Regions from separate parts of the Homo sapiens genome. Here region 1 is linked to region 2. The links come from fine-mapping of genetic effects on gene expression. A gene starts in region 2. The other region holds a variant in brackets. All regions are shown on one strand. Distances are between the middles of the regions.

Region 1 (12,086 bases), 28 kb after region 2:
TCCCAGAGTTGTCCAGAAAAAAAATATACACTTTATATACACTTATATCTTAAAGAGAAATAAAAAACTATTCTTAAAATGGCTTGAAAATACCAGTTGAGGGAAAAATGAATTTAGAGTATTTTTTAAAGGCCTAAATAAAAAGAGACTGCCCAGACTACCTGCTGGAATGAACGACTCAGAAATAAAAGATCTGGGGGCTTTTAGAGGCAGCAACTATTACGAATTCACAAGGGTAGTGAGAAATCTGTGGAGATGGTGGGACACAAATTAGACATTGATGGGATGGAAATTTTTCATTGTTAATTTTTCATTAACAATTCAAACTATCTGCATATTTGGTTTCACACAAACTGAAATTCTAGATGATTGACTTATTACACCTATGACAAATCGGATTTTAGGTTTTTGTTGTTTTTGCTTTAAGAAGATGCAGTCTTGGAAAAAATGGAGAAAATAGTTCCTCAGAGACAGAGACTTATTGAAGTCAGGAGATAGGAAGTTAATTTTGAGTAGTTTCAATCCATTTAGACAAGACAATCTACAATGGTTTGAATATTTGTCCCATCCAAAACTCATGTTGAAATTGAACCAACAATATGGCAGTATTGAGAAAGGGGCCTTTAAGAGGTGATGGGTTGTGAGGGGTCTACCATTAATGGATTAATGGCTTAATGGGTTTATGGACTATGGATGATCATGGAAGTGGGACTCGTGGCCTTATAAGAAGAGGAAGAGAGACCCAAGCTAGCACACTCAGCCCCCTTGCCATGTAATGCCCTTTGCCAAAGGGGGACTCTGCACAGAGTCCTCACCAGCAAGAAGGCCCTCACCAGTTGGTGTCCCTCAATCTTGGACTTCTCAGCCTCCGTAACTATAAGAAATAAATTCTTTTTCTTTATAAATTGCCCATTCTCAGCTATTCTGTTATAAGCTACAGAAAATGAACTAAAACACTATCCTTTTAACCTGAGCTTTAATAAATGTTAACTCTTGCTGCCCTTTTCCTAACTTTGTACATGAATAACTTCTTTGTAATACCCCATAGCTTCTCTCCAGACTTGGCTTCTTCCAAGACTGCTGACCCCAGGATTTAAAAGCCTATCTTCATCTGTAATCCCCACATTCTGGGAGGCCAAGGCAGTCCAATCACCTGAGGTCAGGGGTTCAAGACCAGCCTGGCCAACATGGTGAAACCCTGTCTCTTCTAAAAATACAAAAAGTTAGCCAGGCATCGTGGTGCATGCTTGTAATCTCAGCTACTTGGGAGGCTGAGGCACGAGAATCACTTGACCCTGGGAGGTGGAGGTTGCAGTGAGCTGAGATCACGCCACTGCATTTTCCAACCTAGGTGACAGAGTGAGACTCCGCCTCAAAAAAAAAAAAAAAAAAAAAAAAAGAGAAAAAAAAATAAAAGCCTATCTTATTCTCTTCTCCTTTCAGCATGGTCATTGCCTCTAATTCAGAGCCTCCTTTTTTACTCTTTGCAGTCTGGCAGCTGCCACTACCAACCTGATAACATTGCTCCCTGGAGGAGACGTTGAGGACCATTTCCCCAGAAATGTGAGCTAAAACCAAACTGCTAAAAGACATTTTTTGCTGGGTGTTGTGGCTCATTTCTGTAATCCCAGCACTTTGGGAAGCTGAGGCAGATGGATTGCTTGAGCCCAGGAGTTTGAAACCAGCCTGGGCAACATAGTAAGACCCTGTCTCTACTAAAAATAAAAATAATAAAAAAGGACATTAGCTGGGTGTGGTAGTGTGCCCCTGGAGTCCCAGCTATTTGGGAGGCTGAGGTAGGAGGATTGTTTGGGCTTGGAGGGTGAGGCTGCAGTAAGCTATGATTGCACCACTGCACTCCAGCCTGGGCAGCAGAGTGAGACCCCATATCAAAAAATAAATAAATAAAAATAAAAGACATTTTTAAGATATGTAATGAAGGGAGATGGTTGGGGAGGAGAGGAAGACAAAAGATACAACTCCGGGGGATGGTGGAGGTTTACCAAGAGGAGAAACCAGCAAGACACACAGTGGGAACAACCATGAGGGAAGAGGTGACTGAGGGACTGTATTGTTACTGCAGCCTCGGAAGCAGCAAACATAAAAAAGTTACCCTTTCTGCCCCACCCAAGCTCAGAGCCTCCTCACTGATTTTCCTACTCCCAGGCCCTCCCAGTGCCACTGTGGTTCACACTGAGCACTGGTCCTGGGGTCCTAGCAGTCATCATTTTACACAATTTGATCCTGTTCAGCTCTTCTGGTTTTGTCTCTCTTTCTTTCCTTCTTCTGAAAGTCTAGCTGGAGAAAATAACTCTCCATACCCCGGAACACACACCGCGTTTTCCCATCTTTAGCTCTCTGCTCACTAATGACTTCCCCTCTAATGTCCATCCCCATCATATCATCTCCACCCACCCAAGTCCTACCCATAAAAGGAGAAAAAAAAAAAGAAAAAAAGAAGCAGAGTCTCATTCCATCTCCCAGGCCAGAGTACAATGGTGCAATCACAGCTCACTGTGGCCTTGACATCCTGGGCTCAAGCTATCCTCCTACCTCAGCCTCCTGAGTAGACGGGACCACAGGCAGGCACCATGCCTGGCTAAATTTTTTTTTTCTTTTTAGACAGAGTTTCACTCTGTTGCCCAGGCTGGAATGCAGTGGCTTGATCTTGGCTCACTGCAACCTCTGCTTCACAAGTTCAAGTGATTCTTGTGCCTCAGCTTCCTGGGTAGCTAGGACTACAGGTGTGCTCCACCATGCGTGGCTAATTTTTTTGTATTTTTACTAGAGATGGGGTTTCCCCCATGTTGGCCAGGCTGGTCTTGAACTCCTGACCTCAAGTGATCCACCCACCTTTGCCTCCCAAAGTGCTGGGATTACAGGCGTGAGCTACTACACCCAGCCCAATTTTTTAAAATATTTTTTTGTAGAGACAGGGTTGTTATGTTGCCCAGGCTGGTCTTAAACTCCTGGGCTCAAGCAATCCTCCCACTTCTGCCTCCGAAAGTGGTGGGATTGCTGGTGTGTGCCACCGTGCCCAGCCCCAGCTCAACTCCGTAATGGGTAAATGAATAACCAAATGATGGCTCCAGTACAATCTTGATCACAGTCACACGGCCTCAATTCTCAGTATGATCTGAAATCTGCCCATAGTGCTGCACTTTGAACAGATCAGCAGCACAGATTTTTCACTGATACCCACAGAAATTACCATAGTTTAGATTATCAGATGTCTAAAGGAACATACGTCCTCATAGTTCCCACACCCAAACACATTTTTTTGCACATACAGCAGTTATCAAAAAGTGCCCCAGACTTTTCTCCTGAGCTACAAATATACAATGCCCTGCCTGCCCTCCTATCCTTAGCTCTATATTTTCAGTTCTTTCTCTCTCATTTATTGATTTTAACACCTTTCTTGCTCTGGTTTATGTGATATTATCTTGTAGGGAATTAAGTAGATGCTTCCAATTAGATTCATTACAAGTTCCCTTAAGAAGCGATTAGGAAGGTAAGAGTCCCAAGCGGCTGGTTCCCTCAGTAATACCAGCAGCATTTTTAGGGTGCATGCCAATATCAGACCAGGTTTTAAGTGCCACATTACTCCTTTATCACCAAGGGATCCTTGGAAGCTTGCAAAACTGAGTGCAGCTGAGCATAAAGTAGTGTTTTATTGAATGCCTTATGTGGCAATTACAAAGAAAACAGAAATATGAATCCCTCATCAAAAGGCAGTTTAGGAGGGGTAGTCAATCAGTGCATGGACCCTGTAGTCTAATGGTACTGGCTTTAAATTCCAGTGCCAGCTATAGGATTTTGGAAAATTACTTAACTTCTCTGAGCCTGTTTTCTCATCTGCTAAATGGGGGTAATGGTATAGTAATAGCGCTTTGGGGAGAATTAAATTAATTAAATTAAATTAAATTAATTCAGCACAATACTTGGTACATAGAGTTCAAATAAATGGCAGCTATTATCATTACCATGAAAATTAAAATTCCAGTGAATCACATGACCTGCCTTCCATTTCCAAAACTACGACCTTTTAGTTGCTAAGTTATTTGTGAAGTCTATGGGCTTTAAGAAAGATGGCAAGAAGGGAAAGAGGGAAAAGGGAAGAAGTTTTCCTATTTTCCATGGGTCAGGTTTTCATTGCTACTGAACTCTTTATACAAGCATAATAGAGATAATATTTTGAAAATATTAATAGTTTTCTTTCCCTTTAGAAAACTGCAAACTCCACCTCCTGGGTTCAAGCAATTCTTCTGCCTCCAGAGTAGCTGGGATTGCGGCATGCACCACCACGCCCAGCTAATTTTTGTATTTTTAGTAGAGACAGGATTTTGCCATATTGGCCAGGCTGGTCTCAAACTCCTGGCCTCAAGTGATCTGCCCGCTTCGGCCTCCGTAAGTGCCGGGATTACAGTTGTGAGCCATCATGCCCAGCCATTCTATCCCCTTCTTTATATCTGGTTCTACTATTCAACTAATATAGCCTAAATACCTCCTTATTGGGGATAGAGGAAAACCTGATATAGAAGCAGTTCTTCCTGTTGGCCTGGTGGATTGTGGGAAAAATAACAGAAGGCAAATTGTAGCAAAAGCAAGTGGGCAGACACTTGTGTCCTGGCTTGCCTCCTCCGGGCCACAGTCTGGAAGAGGAAAGAAGAGGATATGGTACATAAACTGGGGGAGAGCCAGATGCAAAAGCAGAGGGGGCTTGTGCCCCAGTCCTAGCTCAGAACTCTGAGAAGAGACTGTGGTGTAGAATGGCTTACACCAACCTGGTGCTACCACAGAACAAGGAAGGCGGCAGAGAGGCATGGTTCCACAGAAAGAGGGCCTGTGTTCCCACTCCTAAACTTGCCTTTCCTCTTAAAAGGCATAGAAGGGCTCCAGAAGTTCCCAGACTCCCCCTGTAGAACCAGACAAGGTAGGTAACAGAATTGGCAGCTTCAGGACCTGCTATAATGGAGCCTCTGTAGTTAGGGGTGAGATAACACTAACGTCAAGGCCAGGGGCTAGAGAGAGGACCTGGCTGAACTCGGTGGCATCTGCAGTCCTGGCAAATGTAAGGTAGGGTGGGTCTAACTGAGCCTAGGAACAACACTGCACTTGGGGAAGACCACTGTAAGGCTGTGGGAACCTGACTGGATCAGCCACTTCAGAGCAGAGGCAGGAGATAGGATAGGCCCTGCACTCATATCAAGGCTCATCTCCCCCTACAGTGGGATCCACATGCCCAAACACCATCTGGTAGAGAAGTAGGGAATGAACAAAGGGGATATTGGAAAGATAGCTAATCTACCCTGTGTGGAAAAGAATGAACTTTGCACAAAGAGAAGTTAGGCCTTTGCTTCTGAGAGTATTTTAAGCCTTTGTAATGTCCTGCCTGATAAGATGGGGTTACCTGGCAGCCTAAGACCATGCCAGATAGTCTATGCTAATAATGTGATTATGGTGGGGCTTTAGGCCTTGCAATATCAACCCAACCTCTGGAAGGCTGGAAGCTAAGGTGGTCAATGGGTGGTCAACCATATCTACTGGTAGTCAACCATATCTATGTAACCAAGCCCCAGTTAAAAACTCTGGACACCAAGGCCCAAGTGAGTTTCCCTGGCTGGCAATACTCTGTGCGTATTGCCCAACATCATTGCTGGGAGGAATTAGCACTGTCTAGAGTTCCACTGTGATAGGACAACTAGAAGCTTGCACTTGCAACTCTCCTGGACCCTGCCCCATCATGCCTCTTCCCTTTGCTGATTTTCATTTCTTACTTTTCACTGTAATAAACCATAACTGCGAGTATAACAGTTTTCAGTGAGTTCTATCAATTATTGAACCTGAGGGTTGTCCTGGGGGACTCCTGATTTCCACAAACCCCAAAGAGACTGGGCCAACTGGAGTGAGTAAAGAAAGATTGCATCCATTAGAGCAAATCAAGAAGCCTCATTGTCTTATAGAATTTCAGTGGTGCTTTGTAAATATGTGACCCTACTACTCAAGCAAGTAAAGACTTCTTACCACTCCAAATAAGGCATGGATGAAGGAATCACAGCTAGCTAGT[C/CT]TTTTTTTTTTTCAAACTAAAGAAGGGGACATGTGTACTGCCTTCAAACATTACAAAGCTATCGTATAAGAAAGGAACTAGAATTAGTGTTTGTCTAGCTGAAGGGTTATATAAAGCCCGGCTGGTGGAAGTTATAGAGGGCCAGGTTTCAGTTTAAGCACAAACTTAGTGACAACCAGAGGCCTCTAAAAAACACAAGCAGCTAACTCAAAGATAGCTGAGTTCCTCATCACCAGAGATCTTAGAGGCCAATGACCCCTTGTACTGAGATTGTGTATAGAATGAAAGTTGACTCAAACATCCTTTAAGTTACATTCCAAGCTGAAAGCCTGTGATTGAGAAGTAAGATAATGTGGCCAAATGTGAACAGTTGGTGGTGAGTCTACATATGGATGTTTATTCTTTCAACTTCTCTGTAGGTATGAAATTTTTAAAAAATTGGAAGCAAACAAAAAAGGAAAAAGAAACATTTTGGAAACTACCTGGTGGCTGGAAATTCTCAGTCATTTCTAAAAATAAACAGAAATTTATTTTCTCACAATTTAGGATTAGAGTCAAGGATAATGAGTATTGCGTCTGATGAAAATATGTGTTGGTTCCCACATTTTACCACTACCGGCACAGCTACGTTTTTAGTCCTTTTATATTTAGCAATTTCAATGGACTGAATTGTGTCCTGTTAAAATTCATGTGTTGAAACCCTAATTCCCAAGGTGACTGCATTTGGAGATAGGGCCTTTAAGAGGCCATTAAGATTTAAATAAGTCATAAGAGTAAGGCTCTAATTTGATAGGATTGGTAATCTTGTAAGAAGTGTCAGAGAGCGAGGCAGGATAGGGGAGAAAGAGGAAGACAGAAAGAGAAGGGGATAGAGAGAGAGAGAGAGATCTCTTCCCACCCTTTGAGAACACAGTGAGAAGGCAGCCATCTGCAAGCCAGGGAAAGAGTCCTCACCTGACACTGCTGCCAGACCTTGCTCTTGGACTTTCCAGCTTCAAGAACCATGAAAAAAAATAAATGTCTATTGTTTACGTTACTCCATCTATAGTATTTTGTTATGGCAGCCCTAGCACACTAAGACAATGACCTTTTAATGACTTATTGACTTATTTCCTGCCTGTGTAATATTATTCATATTACTATGGCTCTTATATACAATTAGGTATATACTTAAACCTTAGTATATTTATAGAAACAGACAAAGCATTAACAGTGCATTTCTGAAGATGTTTTTCAGATGCACTATCACGCAAGCACACAAGACAGCAGGTGATAGTGCCAGCAATTACTGCAGGATTGACTCCAAATCCCATCATCCTGGGAGGAACTGGCAAGAGAAGATCATGAAACTTGTCAATAGCATTGCTACTATACGAAATAAGAATGACCCAGATAGTTGATGAAACCAAGATTAGGATTTGCTGTAAACACTAGTGTCTGTACATATATTAATGTCTGAGGAGATAGGGTTGGAATTTTACAAATCATATTCGTTCAGAATTGTAAACATACAAAACGATTTTCCTGCTCTCTACTGGAGCAGCACCATCTGCTGGACCCACTCAAAATGCAAATTCTCCAACCCTGATGGAACTAAGCAAAGTCAGCAGCCTCCTCTACCTGCTCCTTTTCTGGACCCTAACATCCCCCTTCTTGTTTCCTGACACTGGCTGACACTTCCTTCCTGTGCTCATAAATATAGATTAGCTATTTATATTTCTTGTTTCCATTATGTTTCCTGCAGCTTTGTTCCCCGTGTATAATGTATGTTAGGAGAATGAATGTGAGGAATCTCTGTCAGGAGGTTTTTAATAAAAAAGGTCGTCTTTAATTTTGCAGAGAAGAACCTTGAAAGGGGAAGCTATTTCAAGGGTGTAGTCCTCCTTAAGCTCAGTTCTTTTCCCAAATACAGTGTGTGTGTGTGTGTGTGTGTGTGTGTGTGTGTGTGTGTTATCACTTGCCTAGTTTCCTGTCTCTATTTCTAACCTGTTGACCTCTAAGCTCCAAATTTCCCTCCTCCGACCTTTTCCTCTTTCCTCTTTCTCCTTTCTGGCTCCGCAGACTCTGAGGCTAAACCTGTTCTTAGCCAGAAGATGTGTAACAAGCTCCACACTCAATGCTAATCTATTGCTGATTCAGCCCTTGCCTTTACCCTGGTTCTAGCAGATTCTTACTGAACGCACTTCCCATACTCAACCCTCAGTTCCCTTAGTGAACTTTGCCTGTTTAACCTAATGCCTGAGTGCCTTCCTTAATTATCTGCCCAGATCCTCCATTTTTTTGTGGCTCTCATGGGGGAAAATGTTGGGAGAACAATTTGAATAAAAGAACATGCCAAGATTGCTGGGAGATGGTTGAAAAAAAATCAGTGATGGTGTGTAACACCATAACACAGCATTGAACTCCCTGGAGAGCCAACTCCAAGATGGAGACCAATGTGTAGGAGGTTTATTAGGGTGTTCCCATGTGGTCAACACCCATGGAAAGAAAGCAGGATGGAGCAGAGCTAGTAGTTGAACTGCAGCACAGCCTCAAAGCCTCAGGCGATCCTTCAGGGAGTTCTAAAAATAAGATAACCCTTCCAAGGTGACTTGACTGGGGACAAGAGAGGTCTCAACCTTCATACCTCTTGTCGATCAGCCACTGGCTGTGGGCCTCCAGCAGGGGCTGTGACCTCAGGCAAAGAGTCTATCTGCAACTAAGGCAGGGGCTGTGACCTCAGGCAAAGAGTCTATCTGCAACTAAGGCAATGCCCCAACGGAAGTGACCCAGAGAGCTATCATCTAGCAGCAAGGAAAGTAAGTCCTCAGGAGACTTGGTCTTTCCTAAAGGAGAATAAGTCTTTCCTGAAGAGACATCTGGGCAGTGCATCCCAGTGTTCCCTACCCTTATGTCATCTCACCTCCAGGAAGTACCATTACTTCCTCTGCCTAGTACACAACATATTTTATTTTTCATCTCACTCTCAATCTGGAAGTGATTCCAAACCCCAATTCCAAACACTAGAAGGATTAACCCCTCTTGCGACAAGCAGCCCCAGAAGAAGGTGCACAGACAGTGCTGAGCAGCACAGGGAGTAGTTGAGGAGAACACAGTGAAAGGAAAGCAGAACCTGTTCCATGGGGGTGAAGAACCAGAAGCCAAAATTTCACAGAGCATACGCATGAAAGACAAGATACCATGGATAGAGTGAACTTGGAATAGGTAGCAATGGAGACCTTCCCACAACTGCGAAATGATTGGCCAGGAGTCAATGACCTAGAATATAATAATCAAAAACCATGAATGACAGAAGAGAAAACCAGACCAGAAAATATATGAACAGAAACCATCCTCCTAGCCAAGCTAGTCTAAGGGCTTTCCCCAGTTTTCTTAAGAAAAAAAGAGAGAGAGAGAATTTTATAACTTTCCTTGTTCTACAAATGATTTGCTTTGGTAGATCCTTAGTGAGTAGGAAGAGAAAATGTATACCAGAACCCTCTTGCTTATCTGAAATGACTCCTGGTAAATATTGGACATAATACTCTTCCTACATCATTGACATAGATATCATATACACACATAGATATATATATCGGCATGTAGATATTTATATAGATATACATGTATAGATATCTGCATATATATATTTGTATACAGATATAGACATATAAATATTAATATACCTATATATGTATATAAATACATATACATATCTATATCTGTAGAAGATATCTACCATCTTCTATCTATATATCTTCTATCTTCTATCTATAGAACTATCTTAATTTAAAAACCTTTCATATATGCATATAAAAGGTAATCAAACACAAGCCAAATGAAAATTTGTTTAGCTATGTTAATATCAGACAAAAGAGATTTTAAGGCAGAAATTATTACCTGAAAGGAAGATGTATCCATCATCCATATAAAAGAATCAACTATTGAGGAAGTTGTCAAACTTGTGTATGTATATTCACTCACACAGAGTTAACACACATTTACAATTTTTATAGAACTAAAAGGAGCAATAGCCGCATCTTTGATCATAAAGACTTTAATATACCTTTTTCAATAACTGATAGCAAAAAGGATACAAAATATCAATAATAATACAAAAATTTAAAGCAGTAGGATTAAATACTTTGATATAAAAACTGCACCCAAAAATAGCAAAACACACAATTTATTATAATGTATTTGGAACGTGTTTCAAAATTTACCATAGCTATCTATAGATATCTCTGTCTATCTAGGTAGATAGATGATAGATAGATAGATAGATAGGTAGGTAGATAGATAGATAGATAGGTTAGATAGACAGATATAGGCTGAGGTTAGGCCCATAACAAGAATCAATAAATACCAAAAATTTGAAATCCTTGACAGTGTTTTTTTGTACAACAATGTTATTAAGCTGCAAATCTATAGCAAGACTTTGAAAGTAACCAAATGTTTAGAAATTAAGCATCACATTTCTAAGTTATTCATGCATCAAAAAAGTAATTACAATGAATATTAAAATATATTTTGAATTTAATAAAAATGAAAGTAAAAATACTGCTTGTTAAAAGATGGGAGGCTTAGGCAAACCTCAGCTTGGAGATAAATGCATATGCTTGTTTAAAAAATTAAAGCTTGAAAATTAATAATCTAATTGTCAATCTCAAAAATTTAAAATGTGATGTCAAATTAAATCCAAAGAATTAGAAAAGAGAAGATACATAAGAAGCATGAGAAAAGGAAACAATCATAAAATAAATGAAATCAGCAAAAGCCAAAGTTACTTTGAAAAGACTGATAAAAATATACCATGATTATGCGTGAAATTAAAAAAAAAAAGAGTATCCACAAATTCTAAATATCATCAATAATAACAAGGAAATCATTATAGATTCTATAGTCATGGGATAGAAAAAGAGAATGTAATAAGTAACTTTAAGTCAAAAATTTTGACATAATTTGATGAAATAGATACATTTCTAGAAAATCATTAACAGTGACACAAGAATAAATAGCAAATCCGAATAGCTCTATATCTATTAAAAATAAAATTACAATTAAAGCTTTCCAAATATAGTGAGTCTAAATCAAATAAAATATTAAAAATCTGAAATGTTTCCAGGAAGAAACATTGAATTCCTAATATAAAATATAACATAGCATATGCAATCCCTTTACTGAAAATTGTGAGATTTTACTGAGAGAAATTAAAGATATTCAACAGAAATAAAGGTGTACCATGTTCCTATGTCATTCTTGGTATTAGAAGAAAGATTCAGTATTTTAAATAAATCTATATTTGTAATACACTGAAAATCACAATACTGTGATTAGTAATAGCATAATTTGTCTGCATTATATTTGGTGGCAACTGAAAAACTGACTATAAAATGCAAATGAAAATGCAGTGTATAGATAACTTTGAAGAAAAAATATAATGTGAAGACTTACACTATTAGATATAAAGTTTTTATAAATGTATATCAATTATGACATTATGGAAAAGGTGCAAGTATAGATATTTCAATGAAACAGAATAGAGAGCTCATAAAGAGAACCACACAATATATTTAGCTGATTTGTGAAAAAAATAGTGCTTCAGTACAATGAGGAAAAGATTCATTTTCAATAAATTGTGGTGTCTTTCATACATCGGTACAGAGAAAAATGAATATTAACATCCAACCTCACAACATACACAAAAATTATTTCATATAGAAGCCAATGTGTAACATAAAACAGTACAGTTTTTAAAAAGTAATACAGAGGACACTTCTATGACCTTAAGATTTAAAAAAAGACTCAAAAAGTAACTATTGAAGGCTAGTAAATAAGATAAATAGGTTAATAAATAGTAATAAAATAACATAAAAAATAGGGATTTGTAATCATAAAATAACTCACTGAGTGAAAAGGCAAGCAACAGAATGGGAAATGAAATTTGCAAACATAAATACAATAAGAACTCTTGATCGAAAGATACTTTTTAAACTCTACAAATGAATTTTTTGAAAAAAAAAAAAAATATGGCCAGGTA
Region 2 (12,086 bases):
CTGTTTAATAGATGATTTAGGAAAACTGTCTCACAGAATGGAAAGGAAAAAAATAATGTGAGATTCCTTTGTTTTCCCATATATGAAGATGAACTTCAAATAGAATAAAGCCCTCAATGTGAAAGGTAAAACTGGAAAGCTGACAGAATACAGAATATCTTTGTAATCTTGGGGTAAGGAAAAATATCTTATACTCTTAAAGTGCAACCTAAGGCAAAAATTAATGGACTGGGGCTATATCAAAACTAAAAATTTCTCAAAGTTACCATTGACAAAGTTGATAAACAGAAGACAGGATGAGATTAACATCTAGAATATACCAAAAAAATCTTCAAATCACCACATTAGGAAAAGCAAGTATGGCTAGTCAAAGAAATTATAATCACTAATGAATATATTAAAAGAGTTCAAATTTACTAAGAAATCATATAAGTTCACAAAAAGAAAACCCAATGAGATCCCACTTTACAGCCACCAAACATTGGTAAAACTAGAAAGTTGGTTAATAACAAATTTGAGTAAGAACGTGGGGAATCAGGAACCCTTGTGCACTGATGTGGAACAGAAAGCAGCTGAGCAACTCTGGAGAGTAATTTAGCAGTGTTTAGTAAAAACAGGTATGTTTGTACACCATTACTCAGCCATCCCACTCCTAAGTACATACCCTTAGAGCAGCGGTTCTCAAACTTTCCCATGTATCAGAATCTCCAACCTGGGCATGCTGAAACACAGTTCAGGGTTTCTGATTCAGGAATTCTGGAATGTTAGGACCCAAGAATCTGTATTTCTAACAGTTCAGAGTTGATGCCGATGCTGCCAGGTGTGGACCATACTTTAAGAACCACTACCCTAGGGATATTCTCAACCAGATCATTAAGAAAATGCACACAGACCCAGCTACTCAGGAGGCTGAGGTAGGAGAGTCTCTTGAGCCTAAGAGGCAGAGGCTGCAGTGAGCCAAGATCATGCCACTGCACACCTGCCTGGGCGACAGACCGAGACTCTGTCTCAAAAAAAAGAAAAAAAAGAAAGAAAATGCATACAGGATGTTTGCTAGTGGTAGCAGGAGTGGAGGTGAGTTAAGCATCCATCATTAGGGAAATGGGTAAGTAAAAGTAGGAGACACATAAAAGACCAGCCCTACAAAGCAGCAGTCAAGGCAACGCACTAGATAAACCTGCACTAACAAGGATCTCACAAATAAAATGTTAAGGTTCTTCTGACTTTTATGAATGCCTGCAAATTTCCATAATAAAAAGCTCTAATGTTGAATAAAAAAAGAATGAAATCTATAGCACAGAACCACTTATGTAAATCAAAAACAAACAAAGTAACTCAACATCTTTAACAAAATACATACATATGCAAGAACATATCCTGCACTGGAAAGAAGGCTCCTCTGGGGGAGAGGGGCCTGGGGGGTGCTGGGAGGGGAATGAAGGAGAAAAACGTAAAACAAGCAAGGGGCTTTTGCACAGTGAGAGGATCCTGTGCCAAGAACTGGAATGTGAGCTCAGCTCTCAGCACCAGGAGTCTAAAAGGTAAATCACCCAAATTATCTAAATCTCCACTCACCTGTCTGTACGTATAATGGTTGCTTCAGTTAAAGCCCTTGTGGCTTTACATCATTAAGGGAGTAGATCAGCTTGTCACTGAGAGTGGAGGGGAATCTTTCTCAATACAAGCTTGGGGTGATTTCAGGCCCCCAAAATCAAACCTGCTACTGAGTCCTGGATTTTCCCTTTGACATATTAGTTTAAAAAGACACTGGTGCTCTTGGCTTTTGGCAGAGTGTGTGTGTCTCTTTCTCTGTGTCTTTCTCTTCGCTGTCTGTGTGAGTCTCTGTGTCTGTGGATCTGTGTGTGATGTGTTTATCTGTGGAGATGGAGGACTGGGAGAACAGCAAAGCATTCCAGCAGGGCCTGAGCCAAACTTATTCATCAGCACCATTCAATGCAGCTTTACTGAATCCAGAAGTCAGTTATAAAACCAAGCTACCTTCCTGGGGCTCCGCCCACCCTTCTCTTTCCCTTTCTTCACTCTCTCCTCCCTGACATCCAATGCTGCCTCCCAACTCCCACATCCAAGTGGGCTGATCCAAAATAAGGTCCTCTTGTGACTGGGTAGCTTAATGGAGGTAACAACCTTTACAGGGATGCTCTTAGAGAGGAGAAATAGCCATTTATATTCCTGACCAAAAGCCTTTAATAGGAAAGCCAAAAATCTTGAAGACCAGCATGTCATAAAAGTTCCTCCAGAAGAGACTGTTATGGCTATAGCTACCATCCAAAAAAGGCATAGCCATCTATAACATGTTATGCCCCCACAAGGACACAAGAGCCACTGAATAGTTTGCCATATGAAGTGGTGGGAAAGTGTATATGGCAATCAAAAAATAAAAATCACCATTGATCAAATTTGTGTGAGAAAATGCAACAGATTCTTCTGACAGGATTGCTTTAAAAAGCAAGCTCATGCCAAGAAAGTACATCTTTAGGAGAAGAAGAAATACCTAAACAATTGGAGGAAGGAACAGACAGTGATGGTAAAGAGCAGAATGAACTGGCAGCACACTCATGCCTCCCTCCTAAAGACCAGGGCATTGATGCCTGTGTGCAAACAATCCAGAATTTTTATTCCCAAAATACTCTTTCAGCTTTTCTATAGCAGCACTTTTCAGAGTTTTCCTGAAATGTTATGTATAAAATGAAGTTTTCTAAGTTAAAGCATTTGACATCCAACAGGAGCACTTTTTAGTTAAAAATAATAATAATAATACTGCTAGGTGCAGTGACTCACACCTGTAATCGCAGCACTTTGAGAGGCCAAGGTGAGAGGATTACTTGAGCCCAGGAGTTTGGGACCAGCCTGGGCAACATAACAAAACCCTATCTCTATAAAAAAGTAGCTGGGCTTAGTGGTGCGTGCGTGTAGTCCCAGCTACTCGGGAGGCTGAGGTAAGAGAATCCCCTGAGCCTGGAGAGTTCAAAGCTACAGTAAGCCGAGATTGTACCACTGCACTCCATCCTGGGTGACAGAATAAAACCCTGTCTCAAAAGAAAAACAAACAAAAAAAAACTGATGGCTATACTTAGGAGTCAGGAGTCCGTTTGGTTTTCATGACGTATGTTAACAAAGCACACCATTTCTCTAGCTGAAATGTAGGATCTGCCCCAAGTTTGAAAATTAATAAATTTAACCAGAAAAGTAAAAGAATCAAGTTTTCAAGCTAAAATTGAATGTTTATGGTCAACCCAGCAATCATGTCTTACGAAAACATAAATATTCTTTAAATGTCAATGTGCAAAGGTATTGATGCATATATTTTACTCTAACCATATTAATACAGACTTAAAAATAGATGATGAACATGGTAAATACTGGTAAACTCTTCTGTTATGAAGAATTTTTAAAATTTCAGCTGCAGAGGCATGTATTGAATACAAGTTAGACACTGTGCAAGATGCTAGAAATCTTCCAATGAGTAAGATACTGGTTTAATAACCGTGTCCCTCTGATGTCAATTTAATACATCTCTGGAGTTAATGTCTTTTATTAAAAAGTTTCCGGAAATTTCAAATAGCTCACTATCATCACTGAAGAGTTGCAGAAATGTATCTTATTATTTTACTAAAAACATAAATTTCTATTCTGTGAAGCAGAAATGGAAGGAAAGGCCACTTCACTGTTTTTACATATCACTGTCACTTTCTGCAGAGTAACTACTTAAAACTGCATGGCGGCAGCAGCCACCCCACTGCTACCCAGCAGGTCACAGAGATGCAGAGACTCAAAAACATGCTATATATTGCTGTATATTTTAAGAGGCGCAGTAAGGAAACTCGAAATACCAGGGCCTCCAGAGCTAAACAGGAAGCAAGATAAGACAAGTGAGCTGCCACAGGCAGAAGGCAGCACCTGGAGGTTCCCCCAAAGCTGGCGCCTCCGACAGCAGGCACAGGCTGCTGCTTGCTTGCTTGCTTGCTTCTTTGCTTGGCCACGGCATGTCTTCAGAGCTGGAAGGCTGCCACCTGCTGAATCACCAAACATCCCTGGGCTTCCCTTGGAGCACTGACCAGACAGGCACCCATCCCCCGCAGCCTTCGCCCGTGGACGTTTCACACCCCGACCAATGAAACGCCCCGCCCTCTCCCCTTCTGCACAGGCCAAAACAGCCGCCAACCCCTTTCCATCTGGGCAGCTCTAGGCAACACCCATCGCGTTCCTACGTCACCAGTCCCACTCCTCTCCTTCGGCCCACTCAGTCCCCCCTGAATGTTTCAACCCCCAGTGCCAGGAAGCGTGGGGAGTTCACAGCACAGCACATCAGACATTCGCCACTTCCACATCCAGGGAGCCAACTAGAAACATCCCCAAACCTAAAAGCAAAATAACCTGTCCAAACAGCTTTAAAGGTCCAGGAAGATAAATGTCAAGGGAGCTAAAATAGTCGACAGGCCCCAGAACATAGAAAATAAACTTCCCTTTCAGAAAGCAGCCTTCACTTGGTTTCGTAAGCGTGTACCGCTGAAGTCTGTACTGTTTGAAGGTGAAAAGAAACATCTGAGAAGCACCTGCCTGGATTCTCTTCGCTCCCTCCGGCCATGACAACCCTTATCCCGATTTCTACTTCGCGGCACCAAAGAGGAAAGCAGCATTCACCAGAACGCTCCAGGCTGAATCCGTTAGCTGGACTAGGGCACTCTATCCGGCCCACGGGAGGACGCCACAAGCCCGAGTTCGGGTTAAGACGGTGGGAGAGGCAGCCGCTGCTGCTGCTGTTTTGCCCTTGACACGTCGCTGGGGGATAGCGCAGACCCCCTCTGTCACGGAAAAGCGGCGTCCTGGAGAGACTGTCCAGTTCTGGGCTGCGCCGATTCCCCTCCAGGCCTTGCCCCTAAACGTCCCCGCCCCGCGGGGGCAGCCCTGCGGGGTCTCAGAGCCGCCCGCGAGCCTGGCGGGCTGTTACGCGGCCTGGAGAGAAGGGGAGCGCTCCTCGGGGAGGGGGGGTCCCACCTGTTTTGTCGTCAGGGGGCATCGAGGGGCTACGGTGGGGGGATCCCGAAATAGTGGGCGCCTGGCCGGCTGCGATCTGGACCGAAGGTACCAACTGTCACACCGCCACCTAGGCTGTGGGGGTGGAGCCGTGATTGGAGTCGGCCCCTGGGTGGGGGTCTCCGGACCCCGGGCGGGCTACTGCCCAAAGGCTCCCCGCCTCCCGATCGCCCCAATCCGACACCAGGCAGCCTTCCAGCCCGCACGCAGTAGCTCTGAAAAGGTGCCCACTGACGCCTCCTCCTTCCTCCCCGCCCCAACTTAGCCGGGGAGCCCCGCCGGCGGCCCGCCCCCTCCGAGCCCGGATCCCGGCCGCCGGACCTCCCCGCTGTGACCACCCACGGGAGCAGCAGCTCTGGAGGACTGCCCGCCAGGTACGCGCGCGGCACCGCGCGGGCTGCGCTCACGCCCCCTCGCCCCAGAGCAGCCCGCCCGCTGCTCCCCGGCATAAGGCCGGGCCCGCGAGACAGGTGTCCGATCGGCCCCCGCAACCGTGAGGCCGGCTGTCTGTCCCTGCCCCACGACTCACTTGCACTGGAGTCACGGCAGCCGCCGGAATTCCGCTCGCGGAGCCCCCGCCGCGGAATGAAATCCGGGGCAGGGCAGCGTCGGGGCTCCGCACCCCAATCGCGCTCTCCGACCGGCTCCCTAGGCGCGAGGGGAGAGCAGTCAGCCCAGGCCGGTCCTTCTCACTCCCGACCTGCCCGCCGCCTGCCGCCCGCAGCCGCTGCCCCGCTGGTGCGAACGCTTTCGACTTGCCACCGCGAGCCTCCCGGGCTGCCGAGCATGCCCAGTCCGCTGCCCGAGCCGGCCCGGCTTCCCGCGCGACGCGACTCCGCTCCTCCGGGTGTTCACTGCGGCCGGGGGGGCGGGCCGGCCGGGCGGGGTCCGCGGGGGGCTCCTCCCGGGACCGAGCGGGACCCCGAACCAAGGGACAGTCGCAGTTTGGGCCCCTTGAATTTTACTTTCAAGTAATGGGAAACTGAGGAGGCGGGCGCTTTCCCCAGCGTTTTTAGGGGCCCACTAAGTAAGGCCTAGCGGGAGCCAGATTTTACAATCTGGGACGGTAAATCCCTTGGGGCAGGGCCGGAGACGGGAGCCGCTAGAGCTGGTCACAAAGCAGGGAACGCAAACTCAGCCTGCTGGAAGCCAGGCACGAGTTTGCGAACTACTACTGGATTCTTTTTCCCACCAAGCCCAAGGGCTGCGACACTTGGGATTAATGCCCAATGGATCATTCCTAGGAAACGGCCGACCTGACTATTCGGCCCATTTTCAAACCTCTAACCATAGACTCTCATCTTTCTCCCACAACAGAAAAAAAAAGCCTCTGGCGACGCCTGGGAGCGCGACGGAGGCGCAAGAGCTCTAACCGCGCGAGGTGAAAACTCCGACTGCGTCAGAGCCGCCCCGCCCCGCCTGGGGCCCACCTTCCGCCGCCCCTCCGAGCTGCGGCGAAAACCCGGAGAGCGGCTAGGCCGGGGTCGGAGCCCGCGCATGCCCAGTAGCCCCACGTGGTGCAAGTCGCCTGAAGGAAGGTTTTCCTCTGCTCCCCGAGCGAAGCCCCAGCGCCCAAGTTAGGATGGACAGCGGGGAGAGCTGGCCTTCCCGCCCCGATGCCCGCCGTCCCTGGCCGGCCCGCGCCGCACCTCGGTGGCCTACAGGCAGCCCGAGGCCGTGCCTCCCGCGGGGTCGGGGACTTGGCGAGCGGGGGAAGGGGCGCGGCTACGGGCCCGGCGTACCACGTGACTGTCCGCGGCGCTCCGGGCAGCCATCTTCCGCCCGGCCATCGGGCCGCGGGCGCTCGGAACCGACCTGGGAGCTGGCGGGACCGTCCTCCCCCGCCACGCCCTCCCATCGGGCTTTGGGCGCCGGACTCTGGCCACCGCTCGGCACCTGCCTCCGCCTCGCCTTGGGGTATAGGAGTCCTGTACCGACCCCTGGCTTGCCCAGAGGACAGGTTCTCGCCCGGGCCAGAAGCAAACTGCGGCGAAATCGAGACAACAGAACTCAGGTGGCGGAGGGTCCCCGCTTTTCCCCAGAGGCGGAAGTTGGCGAGGGAGTCCTCTTCCGTTATCCAGCGAGAGCGCTGCTCTGGCTGCCTCCCGGTTCTAACCTAGTCCCTGCAGAGGAGTGATGTACCGGCAGGGACATTGGACAGAGGCCGTGCTCTTCCCTGCAGCGCATACCCCGCGGCCCCTGCTGGTGGGCCGCTTCGATGGTGCTGAGGTTCATAGTGAATATTTATTGAGCGCCTGCCTCGAGTCCCTTGGGTTTCCTGTTGTCTCGGGACCTGCCGCGTCACTATCACCCTAGAATTTGTTAGAAATGCACGTTTTCGGCCCCACCTAGACCTACAGAACCAGAAACTGCGGGTGGAGTCCTGCAATATGATTAACAAAGCCCTCCGGGTAGTTGTCATGGACGCCTCTATATTTCAGCTAAGCAGTCCATTTTAATAAGCTAGGCAGTGAAAATTTCCATAGTTTTCCCCAAAGCACAGTGAGGAGTCAGGGATTCAAAATGAGGCAATCTGCCCCAATGCAGGCGTTTTATTGCACCCTCCACTCCTGGCTCCTCTGGTTTTTTCGCCCGTAAGACACAGTACTGCTCTTCTCAGGAAGATTAGGAAAGTACATTTGTCACATACGCTTTTCAAGCACGGCTTTAAAATAACAACTGAAATTCAGTTCAACTGCATGTTTTGAGTATCTACTGGGAGCAAGGCTCTGTGAAGTATAGTAGCCCTACTGGTTATGTTTATCAGTTTGCACCTAAAAGGTGAAAGGAAGGCTTGCTTTCTTGTGATGTAAATTTTTTCAAACTAAGGGAGTGCCAGAAAACTGCTGGCTGCTTTCTCTCCCGTGTTGGTTTCTCTCCAGTGCTATCCAGAATATGCTGTAAGCTCTGGACTTCCTGAAACAAAGGTCCAAGTAAGCATCTGGTCTTTGATGTACTTTAAAATGCACCCCACCCCCACATGAAAGATAACTAAATTTTTCAAAATATTAATACTTCTTGAATGTAAATCGTGTGTCTAAGGTACTGGCATAATTTTTTTTTTCAAATTTTCTATATGTTTGAAATGTTTCATAATAAAATCCTTTTAAATTTTTTTCCATGTGTAATTTTAGGATGATATATATATAGCACATGGAAAAAAGCAGGGCATAGAAGTATTTCCACTTTAATTTCAGTTTCATAAAATCAGAGAGAAAAAGTCATAGATATATACACCATACATAAAAAATAAAAGCGTAAATAAATACAGAAAGAAATCTAAAGAGAAATCACCATAGCAGTAAAAGTAAATTCTGTGTGAAGTGGTTATAAGAGACACTAAGAGTTGCCCCTCCTTGAAATTATATTTAGTTATGGTCCTTAAGTCACTATTATTTGTAACCAAAAAAAAAAATTGAATAAAAATAGTTCTCCCTCTTTAGTCCATCCAATCCTAAAGAATTTTTATCAGTGCCCTTTCTTTTTCTTCAGAGTCACTCTGTCACCCAGGCTGGAGTGCAGTGGCACCATCACAGCTCCCTGCAGCCTTGACTTACAGGGCTCCAGTGATCCTCCACCCTCAGCCTCCTGAGTATCTGAGACCACAGGTGCAAGCCACCATGCCCAGGTAATTTTTTATTTTTGGCCGAGGCTGTTTCATCATGTTGCCCAAACTGGCCTTGAACCCCTGAGCTCAAGTAATCCACAGGCCTCCGCTTCCCAAAGTGCTGAGATTACAAGCATGAGCCACTGTGCCTTGCTTACCAGTGTATTTCTTAGGAAAATTTTAATAAACATCATATTGTTGGATTGTAAAATTTTTGGATTCTCAAGTACTCAGAATATCATGAATTACGTTGCTGTCAAGACAACTAGGAAACAAAAGTGAATCACCTCCAAGTCACAATCTGTCATTAGAAATCTTGTTAAAAATAATACTAAGAGCAAATACTGAAGCAAATGCTTCACTTACCAAAACAGCTATTCTGAAGTAGGTGGTTTGGTTCCAAATGAATGACTTTTCTACCTTTAGAAGGTAAACTACCTGATTTAAAATGTGGTTTTATTCAGTGGACCTTTCAGCAGTAGCCATCACTCACCATTGAGAAGGTGGGCTTCTCTCACCACCTTAATCTCTGTAGGTCTCTTTCACCCTCTAGCATACATCTTACTAAGGCATCTAAAGTACTTACTACTTCGTACTCATGGGATCCAATGATGCTCACATAATGTCATCAATAGAGTGGACCAGTGTGATGTTTTGTGGAATGTCAGAACAATCAAGATCACTTCAGACTATTATGGCAGTGAGCAAGAGAACTAATGGAGCCCGTGGCAACACTGGGAAGACATATTGTTGGCCCTGTTGGGTAACAGCAAATCACTTCTGATGGACCTTGCAAATTGGTATGGAGGAAAAGGCATTAGCCAGGTAAATAAGTGCATACCAAATGTCAGATCTGCCCCAGGTGCATACCAATGTGTTAATCTGCCCCAGTAAAGGTACTACTTCTGGGAGAGCAGCTGAAATTGGAGTCCCCATCTGATTACATTTATGACATTCCACAGTCATTCTTCAAGATCCATTTGTCTTCTGCACAGTCTAAACTGGGGAATTAAATGGGAGATACTATAGGTATCACTACCAACCACCTGTAGTCAAAGTTCAAATAGTGCTCTGGAAGCAAGGAGACTTTTGTTTCTATCCATGGAAATTTGTCTCAATGTGATCCAGAGCCACGTAGCCTGAATAACAGGAGCAAGACCTTAGGAGCCCCTGCTTAGCTCTTTAAACTCTTCTGGCCAACCTGGGTTCCAAACCAAGGCTAACCAAAAAAGCTAGTCGAAGACAACAAAGGTCATTCCAAGTATTGGCCCCGAGGCTTAGATCTGATAATACTCAACATTCTGTGCTCATTCCTGTGTACCTGGCTAGGATTCCTGGCTTCAATAACTGCTTGGCTTCTATTCATTGACAAAAAACTTGGAATTTATTTGAAGATACCAGGGTAGATCAGGGATGCAGCTGAGCCTCGGGATGAGATGGAAACCAGGAACTGGAGTATTGAAAGGAACCCAGAAAGTCTCCCTCTGTCTCCTCTGCATTTCTATTTATTCTCTCCCTGTGGTTTCTGGCTTTTTTCCTTCAGTTCCATGAAATGACCACTTGAGAGCTCCCAAGTTTTTAATCTCTTCCAGAGAGTAACAAGAACAACCCTACCTATATTCATTAACCCTCTTGTCTAGTTGAATCCTATTTCCCCAGATTCCCACTGGCCACTTAATCTTACTAATATTTCAAGGTCCATCTCCAATTTCACCTTTTTTTGTATACAAATGTTCATAACAGCTTTATTTATAACAGCCCCAAACTGGAAACAACCCAAGTGTTCATCGGTAGGTCAATGGACAAATCTGTTCAATGAAGTGGTACTCAGCAATGAAAAACACAAAAACAAAAACTCTTGACAAATGCTACCACATGGATGGATCTCAAAATAATTATACTGAGTAAAATAAGGCTGACCAAAAAACGGATACATATTGTATGATTCAATTTACATAGAATTCTAGGACATGCAAACTAATAATGGGGCAAAAGGGCACTTGGGGATGATGGGTCTGATTTTCACCTTGATCGCAGTGATAGTTTTACGCAGGGTATACATATGCCAACACACTGTACACTTTAGATATGTGCAGTTTATCAGCGGTCAAGTATACCTCAGTAAAGCTAAAATAAAAATATTAATGGGCTCCACATTCTGGAGACACTGGCAGTAGAACTATTATTTTCAGCTTGAAATATTAGCTACACTTTGGTAAAAATACTTTTGAATTTTATCTTCACAGTTGTAGCAAGGAAACCAAAAGGTATAAACATTCACTGATTGAAAAACAATGTCATAAAGTCATCCCAGTATCTGTGAGGAGTTGGTTCCAGGACCCCTGAGGACACCAAAATCCTCAGATGCTCAAGTCCCTGATAAAAAAATAAAAGGTACAGTATTTGCGTATAACCTCCCCATATCCTCCTGTACACTTTAAATCATCACAAGATTACTTATATTACCCAATACAATGTAAATGCTGTGGGAATAGTTACACTGTATTATTTAGAGAATAATAAGAAAAAAAGTCTGTACATGTTTGGTACAGATGCAGTTTTTTCTTAAAAATTGTTGATCAGCAGTTGGTTGAATCCACAGATGTGGAACCCACAAATACAGCAGGCTGACTGTATATACTAAGAAAAATTACAAAGTGAAAATGAGGAATTCTCATTCTGTAAATGAAACCAAATCTAACACATTTCTCAACAATGAATAAAACCACTTAAGAGTCAAATATTTGGTGTCTGACAGCCATCTCTCTCCTGCATGTTGATGTGGTCTACAGCAGTGGTGCCCTCGGGTTCAAAAACCTGAACGGTGGTCTTCAGTTGTTCCCCCAAGCTCCTCTATCAGAGGCCCAGACACTCCAAGAGGCTGGGAAGAGGCAAGTGGCTTTCCCTGACTGGCATCAGACTCCTGGATGGCTGTGTTTCTGCATACTCCACCATCAACAATCAGAAGGGCACTGCTTTCTTCAAGAAGGGGACCTTGCAAAGAACTGTCTCAGATGGACTATCTTTGAGTTCATCTTGTTCTGAATGTGAGTCTGAGTCTTTGTTTCCAGATGACACAGTGCTGTCTGAGTCCTCTGAATCACCTGCCTCAGAGCTGCAGCAAAGTTTCTGCTGCCCAGAAACTGAATGGGCTGCTTGTAATGCAGATTCTTCCTCCTGGACAAGAAGTGCTGCTGCTTCTAGTTCTTCCAGTTCTAACCCCAACTGGGCCTTTGTAAGGGAGACTTCCTTTAAGGCTTCTGCAAGAGCTGCCAACGTTTTGGATTTGACTTTCTGAGTCCACACACAGTAGTATGAGATGTAGAGATCATTCAGTATGTATGCTGGGTCGTTTTCCTGAAAAATTTTGTGAATATCCAGGAGACACTTTAAAACTGCACTTTTACTTAATTGCAGTATCTTT

Alleles and levels. Alleles are on the strand shown, and positions count from the first base shown. SD is a standard deviation of normalised expression in the study named.
For the expression in neutrophils of the gene that starts at base 5,834 in region 2, allele C in region 1 goes with a lower level than allele CT (large effect, 0.86 SD a copy in BLUEPRINT).

Evidence for each region. PIP is the estimated chance that this variant, and not a neighbour inherited with it, causes the effect.
Region 1: its variant is fine-mapped to the expression of SGMS1 in neutrophils (BLUEPRINT, PIP 0.95).

Annotation. Positions count from the first base shown.
Region 1 is chr10:50,645,750-50,657,835 of GRCh38, forward strand. No RefSeq gene overlaps it. Among named protein-coding and RNA genes, the nearest start is that of SGMS1-AS1, 27 kb to the left of the region's middle. RefSeq lists enhancers at 2,699-2,858, 2,879-3,028, 3,239-3,298. The variant C/CT (reference allele first, on the strand shown) is at 6,068.
Region 2 is chr10:50,618,123-50,630,208 of GRCh38, forward strand. It overlaps SGMS1 (sphingomyelin synthase 1), which reads right to left and starts at 5,834. Exons shown (of 11, transcript NM_147156.4): 1 at 5,585-5,834. It overlaps SGMS1-AS1 (SGMS1 antisense RNA 1), which reads left to right and starts at 6,829. Exons shown (of 4, transcript NR_126411.1): 1 at 6,829-7,069; 2 at 8,548-8,683; 3 at 10,909-11,056; 4 at 11,455-12,086. It also overlaps the pseudogene SHQ1P1. RefSeq lists enhancers at 3,882-4,041, 4,592-4,991, 5,703-6,231 and silencers at 5,182-5,521, 5,782-6,041, 6,090-6,247, 6,372-7,001.